2 linked regions of the Homo sapiens genome follow. The protein of the gene in region 1 purifies or fractionates together with the protein of each later gene. This does not show direct contact. Each region holds a gene or a part of one and is shown in the gene's direction. Other genes may lie near its edges.

Region 1 (3,500 bases):
ATCAAAGTGAAAAAAAAATTCATTTGGAAAAAATGTTATATTGTCAGTGTTTTATTTCAGAGTTAATATTTTTGACTGTTTAGAACTGTGAACTATCCTCATCTATTTTACAGTAAAAGTTGATTCTAAAATTATTGCCATGATAAACTTGTTATAATTGAAGAGAAAAACTTTGGACAATTTTTAGATGTATGTTGAATTAAATACTTCTTAATTTGTATTAAGGGACAAAGTTTATCAAATTTATATTGTTAAAAGCAATTTAATATCAATGTAAGTCTTTTGAAATAAAGTATCATTGCATTCAAACTTTGAATGGAAAAGAGGGAGGTAAGCCTAACAGCTAACTGCTGAATTTCAGAATACTGCCTAAATGTTACTAAATGTTACAAGATACCACTAGTATTAATTATAAAGTGAGCTTAACATTTGCCAGTTTTCAATGAAGGGAGATTATTTATTTGAAAGGTTATTTTTTAAAATGTTCAATAAGCTTAAGTAATAGCATGGTTATTTTTCTTCTTTATCTTTGTATAGAATAGATAAAGATGTGGAAGACAAAAGACAAAAAGCCATTGAAGAGGTAACTTAAACTGTTACTGATCATTAAATCAGTTAAGGATCAATTCTGCATGTACATCACTTCTTTTAGGAAGACTTTCTTCAATTCCTTCACTGTCCTATCTCCCCTCCAAGCCCTTCACAGTCCCATCTATATAAAGCACCCTTCTGTACTGTCCTAAGACCAATAATTTCCAGCTATCCCAGTACCTTGCATAGCACTTGCATACTGTTGTAATGATCAGTTTAGTGTTTCTGTCCCCTAGACGCAATCTTTTTTGGCCAATACTGTACTTCATCCTTTCATTCTCAGGACCTAGCACAATTTGTCTTCCTTGTGCCTTCAAAATGTTGATTAGCACAAACTTTGTTTCAAGTTGGAGTTTATGTAGAGGAAGTCGAATATTCTCAGGCCTTCAGAGTCTAGATTGGCATTGGGAATGGCTTTGTCTTTTTTTGTTAATACTTTGGATTTTTAAGATATTCATGAAATAAAATCTCTTACTGTTAAACAGGAAAGGTATATCATAATGTAGGCTTTCTAAAAAATAAAAATAATTAAGTTTTTTGCTTTTTTATGTCTGTTGAATTGCCTTTCTTAGCATCTAAATAAGGTTATTATTATTATTATTTTTTGTTTTTTGAGACGGCGTTTCGTTCTTGTTGCCCAGGCTGGAGTGCAATGGCATGATCTCAGCCCACTGCAGTCTCCGCCTCCCAGGTTCAAGTGATTCTCCTGCCTCAGTCTCCCGAGTAGCTGGGATTACAGGCATGCGCCACCACACGCAGCTAATTTTGTATTTTTAGTAGAGACGGGATTTCTCCATCTTGGTCAAGCTGGTCTCGAACTCCCGACCTCAGATGATCCGCCTACCTTGGCCTCCCAAAGTGCTGGGATTACAGGCGTGAGCCACTGCGCCTGGCCCAGCATCTAAGTAAGGGTTACTTACCTTGTTCTTTCCTCAGAAAGTCTTTATGTGATGGCAGCATTTCTGATTTTTACTTTTCTGCCCCTCTAGCCCCCTCAACCCTCCTCTGTTCCTTAGCCGTACTTGGCTCTTCCGTACCACAAAAGACTATGTTTACTCCTGCTAAACATTACCTACTTCTTCTTCTATCTAGTAACTGCACAGTTTTCATTCTGACTCAGTCACTTGGTTCTTCCCCACCTGAATATTCTCAGACTCTCAAAATTTCCAACATTTTGAAAAAATACTTTCTTTAAGAATCCTTAATTTTAAAGAGAAACCCAGCAGGTAAACTTAAGAAAATTTGTTTCTTTTCAATATATATTTTTGAAAATAGAAGAAACATATACATATAGTAAAAACAAAAAGAAAAAATATAAAATAAAAAGCCTCCTGTTTCCCCATCCCACTTCATGAAGGTAATGACTATAACATTTCTTATGTGTACTTTCAGATTAATTTTACTTATTTAATAGCATATGTCCTTAAAATATTTTCGACAAATAGGATTATCATTCTCATACTATTATCGTTCTCATACTGCATCCTCCTTTTTTTGCTTCATGATTTTTCTTAGAAATTTTTGATAACCAGCATATACAGATTTTTACATTCTCTTAGCAACAGCATAGTTACCTAGCCCCTGTTGACAGATGTTTAAATTGTGTTTATTATTTTTCTGTCACAAATAATGCTGCAGTGATTTGTATATATATCTTTATATTCTTGAAATGGACCTAGTAAGTCAGAGGCTTTGTGAATTTTCAGTTTTGGTAGATTTTACCATATTGCCCTCCTAAAAGGTTATACCAGTTTATACTCCTGATTACAGTGTGACACTGCTTGATTTTCCATATCTCCAATATTGATTATTATCAGAATTCTTAATTTGTTCTACTCCTATTACTTTAAAAATGACTTTTTTTTTTTGTATTTCTTTACTTTTGAGTGAACTTATACATCACTTTGTAAGTTTATAGGTCCTTTAATTTTTTTTCTGGTAATTGTCTATATCTGCCCCAGTCCACCTTTAAAAAAAAAAAAAAAAAGAATCTTTTCCTCTTAGATTCATGGGTAATTTAGTTAAGAAAATTAGCTCTTTGTCATATGTATAGCAAAATATGAAGAAAATATGTTTGGTTACTTGCAAAACCTAGGGAAGGGAAAACACTGTGGTAGAAATGAAAGAGGAAAGAAAAGTATACAAATGCTCTATCTCATTTGAATATACTGGCCAGTAGTGTGCTGGTGAATGTTTAACAACTTGCTCTCTGGTCGTGGAAGGAGTACGATTTATAGCGATTCCTGCTATCCATAGTGTAAGTACTCCAACCATGGCCAGTTTCAAGCTACTGATGTGACATCACTGAATGGGAAAGGAAGAATAGTGGCACACCATTATATGTAGGAATTCCACCATACAGATACAAAATACATTATTAACCTCAAGAGCATAGACATTGATAAATATATAAAATAATTAGCAAGTGGTGAGTTTTGGATATTTGTTACCTTTATTTTTAATATATTTAATTGTAAGTTTACATAATTTTATTTTTAATATTGGTTTTAACAACTGGTGCACAGAATTCTTGAAAATTTAATAATCAGATCTTGAGAGCCAGAACAAACAAGCCAGCTTCAGTGCCGTCATTCATACTGGCCTACTTGCATGTCTCTGTCTTAATATATTCCTTCCCTTTTCATCCTTTTTTTTGTAACCCCATCAAAAAAACCTGGGAAAGAAATTTAAAATACTTTGTCTATGATTAATCCTCTTAGTTTAGTTTGCAAGTTTCAAATTTAACTGGTTGATTTGAAGTATTAAGATTCCTCTTTATATATACTTTAAATTTCTTCCATTTTTCCTTTGGTCATTTGTATTAAAATTTTTGCATACAGTTATAAAGTTAGTATATGACATGTTTAATAATTACTTGGAAAAACACAGGTACCGTCTCACATTTTGGG
Region 2 (3,956 bases), 5.9 Mb from region 1:
CCTGGGAGGTCGCTGTGTTGGCACCTAGTGGTGACAGAGCTAGACCCTATCTCAAAAAACAAAACAAAAGTTGCCAGAAGCCATGGAGCTACCGTTTAGGTAGGAAGTTGTTGGGGGCAGGGATTTCCGCTGAAGCAGCCCAGGTCCAGAACCCCTTTCTCTTAACCATGAGGCTGCTTCTTGAAGTCATACTGCGTCTTTTTCACAAAGATTAGTAAAAGTTGTCCCGATGGTCTTGTCTTTAAATCTCTCAACTCACAGATTTTACTTGTTAGCGTAATTTATCACATCAGCTCTTCCTCGCTTCAAGTAAGTTGCAGATAAATTCCAAATTTGTTATACTGCATTTAAGATAAATTTAGGAACTTTTAGGTTTTTTTCTTTTTTGTTGGTAGGAAACGCAACTTATAACCTCACAAATTCTCCCTTGGGGTTCAACAACACAGCGGTACATTTCATATGCAACCATGCACCTGAAATGAAGACGTGAAAACGTTAATCTCCTTTTGGTGGAAAACCCAGAGAAGCCCACAGTAAAAATGTATTTTCAGGGAAAGCTGCGATTAAATGTATCAGGATCGTCTCGGACACAGATAAGGAGACAATCACTGTTTTCTTAAGTGAATTATTGTGCCCTCTGGAAGCACATTATATTGAGTGGAAAGAGAACTGACAGAGGTGGAAAGCTGTTTTGAAAAAAATTGAAACGTGTAGATAATGTCTTTTCTCTATGTTTTGATTACGCTGTGTTGGCGGATGTGTGGGGTTTAATAATTAGGCGAAAAACTCTCCATCCTTCACCCCATCCAATCCCCGAAAACAATTTGGGGATTTAAAAAATCGCCTTTCCGTATCTTCCTCTTCTGTCTCCACTATTCCGCTTTCCTTTAGATTTTCCAAGATCCTCGATACTTGTAGTAAACTACCTTCCTACACATTCGCAGGAATCTTGCAGCTCCCTAATCAGTGAATTTTCTTTCTTTCTTTCTTTCTTTCTTTTTTTTTTTTTTTTTTTTAATGAAAGGAAAACGCCTTGGAGATCGCGCGTTTCGAAAGCGCGTTTTCGTTTTCTCTCCTGGGCGGGTTATGGCCCTACCGGGGCGCCGTAGCCGGCCCGCGCGTGCCCAGTCTTGGCGAAGAGTAGCGGTAGGTCGGCGGGACTTCCGTGTTGGCGGGATTCTGAACGCTGCCATGGCTCAGACCGTGCAGAATGTTACATTGTCGCTCACTCTGCCCATCACGTGCCACATTTGCTTGGGGAAGGTAATGGGTGATTGTGGGCACAGCTACAAAACGGGGTTGGATAAGTCGCTCGCCGGGGCCGAGGGCCGTCTCGTGCGGGGGCGGGGAAGGGGCGTGAGGCGCGGAGATGGGAGAAAACGCTAACCCGCGTTCTTGATGGGAGGCCGCGTCCTGGGAGATGGGGGTAGCGCACCGTGATTAATGGATTCATCTGGGCGCCTTTCGGAGGAGGGTGACAGCGGCCCGTGGTCTGCCGGGAGGGCGGCGAGACGGCCCTGCCACCGCCCGCGGCCTCACACTGGCAAGACACCGGCCTCGAAGGAGGCCCCATCAGAAACGCATCGCAGGGATATTTAACTTCCCTCTGCAGCCTCGCGTGGCGTGTAGTGAAGCCCATTAAAACACATTTCCTGGGAGCCTCACCTCGGGCTTCTTAGTCCTCTGTAACTAGTGTTCATCCTCTGGGGCCTACGGTGCTGTGTATTGAGTCTTTTCCATTTCCAAGACCTTTTGCCTTTATCCTGGCCTTGAGGATGACCTTTGCTCTGAATTCCTAATTTGAAAAGTAAATAGTAAGTGCTCCTGGAGGGTATTAGAATAAGAGGTGTGGCTTTTAACTCCAAGAATGGGTCAGTCAGGAGATAGAATACTCTCTCTTTGTGATGCAAGAGGTGCCTAGTGTGTTTGTGAAACAAGGTAGGGAAAGTGGTTCTGAATTAGAAACGGAGCTTTGAATATTCTAATGCATTCCTCTCCTCTTTCATTTCCATTTGTGCCTCACTTTCGGTGTTTTAAAGAGCATTTCTTTACCGAATAGATAAAGAAGGGGAAAGATAAACCACCAACTTTTTTCCACCCTGAATTATTTTTACGTCTGTGGTGTGTCAGGGTGTGTGTTTACCCCCCAGCGCAGACTGAGCCGTAGACTCAGATTTGAGAAATACAAACTTCTAGAGCAAGCATTTGAGTGCCGGCCAATACGATCTGCCTGGGGTGTTTGAAGTTCTGTGTGAATTTACTGGATTCAAAAAGTAGAAGAAAGTCAGCATTGGAAGCAACTGATAATTCTGGATAGCAGTCAGAATGAAATGCCAATGAAATAGCAAATGTGCTGGGAGATCATGGATTGGGGATGGCTTGATCAATTTGGAGAGATCAAGGATGGCCTCATCGAGGATGGTGTTTGAGCTGGCATTGAGCTATTACTTACTGCCTGCACGGCTAGGGGGAGGGAAGAAGCGATGTTTCTATTTGCCACAGTCTACATTTGGCTCCTGACATAAAGTTCCTGGAAATATGTGTTAAATTCTGAGTTAATTTCCTCCAACACTGGCTTTAAAGGCTGATAAAAATATTCTTGGGAAGTATTTTGTACACATTATATATAGTTTCCATTAGTTATAGGCTGTCTTTTGCAATTGTATTGACAGTGTTCTGTTTGATTTACCAAACCTATACTTTTTGTATTTAACGAGAGTGATACCTCATAGAATATAGTGATTTGCAGACTACAGAGTGCTTTTGTATGCATATATTATTTTGTTTACTCTTCACACCAATGCTTTAAGATAGGGCTGGTTTTTCCATTTTTAAAATAAGAATATTAAAGCTTAGAGTCTGTGGTTGAACCTCTATACTATCATTTGTGTCTTCAGAATACTAAGACTTTGAGTCTTCATAGTTGAACCTCTATCATTATTACCATTTGTCTTCAGATTACTTCGTAAAACCCTCACCTAAGTTCATCCATGACATCAGGCATTTTTAGTGTTTTTTTTTTCCTGTATTGGTTAACTTTATTCTGAAATAAAAATCAGATAATAAAAATAAAAAGATTAAGACTTTTGTCTTAATCTTATGTGCCAGACTTTATGCTAAACTTTGCACATGCTTCATTTAATCTTCTGAAAACAGAAAGGATGGGGAGTTGATGTTATTACCATATTTCTACTGTTACAGATAAGGAAACAGGCTCAAAAAGGTTAAGCCAGGCGCGGTGGCTCACGCCTGTAATCCCAGCACTTTGGGAGGCCGAGGCGGGCAGATCGCCTGAGGTCAGGAGTTTGAGACCAGCATGGCCAATATGGTGAAACCCCATCGCTACTAAAAATACAAAATTTGCTGGGTGTGGTGGCAGGCGCCTGTAATCCCAGTTGAGGCAGGAGAATTGCTTGAACCTGGGAGGCGGAGGTTGTAGTGAGCTGAGATCGCGCCATTGCACTCCAGCCTGGGCAACAAGAGTGAGACTTTGTCTCAAAAAAAAAAAAAAAAAAAAAATTAAAAATAAAAGAAAATTAATTAATTAAGGATTTTTAAACAGGCTCCTCCCCCCCCCCCCCCAGGTACCATGGAAGCAGAAAGGATATGTGACTGAGGGCCTGAGTTCTACATTCAGGCTAGCCGGGTTCTAATCTAATCTACCACTTACCACTCATACAACCTTTTACAAGTTACTTAACTTTTTTTCTTTTTTTTTTCTTTTTTTCTGAGACGGAGTTTCGCTCTTGTTGCCCGGGCTGGAGAGCAATGGCGCGATCTCGGCTCACCGCAACCTCCGCCTCCCGGGTTCAAGCAATTCTCCTGCCTCAGCCTCCTGAGTAGCTGGGATTACAGGCATGCGCCACCACGCCCGGCAAATTTTGTATTTTTGGTAGAGACGGGGTTTCTCCATGTTGGTCAGGCTGGTCTTGAACTCCCGAACTAGGTGATCTGCC

Evidence for each region. Proteins that work in one complex are often made in the same cells at the same time.
Region 2: the proteins of BORA (region 1) and OBI1 purify together in Homo sapiens (affinity purification with mass spectrometry; one large-scale study listed by BioGRID and IntAct). This does not show direct contact.

What each region holds. Positions count from the first base shown.
Region 1 is NC_000013.11:72,734,423-72,737,922, forward strand, and holds part of BORA (protein aurora borealis), read left to right. Parts: intron 1-537; coding exon 538-583; intron 584-3,500. UniProt on the Homo sapiens protein: Required for the activation of AURKA at the onset of mitosis.
Region 2 is NC_000013.11:78,656,356-78,660,311, reverse strand, and holds the start of OBI1 (ORC ubiquitin ligase 1), read left to right. Parts: upstream 1-1,156; 5' UTR 1,157-1,191; coding exon 1,192-1,263; intron 1,264-3,956. UniProt on the Homo sapiens protein: E3 ubiquitin ligase essential for DNA replication origin activation during S phase.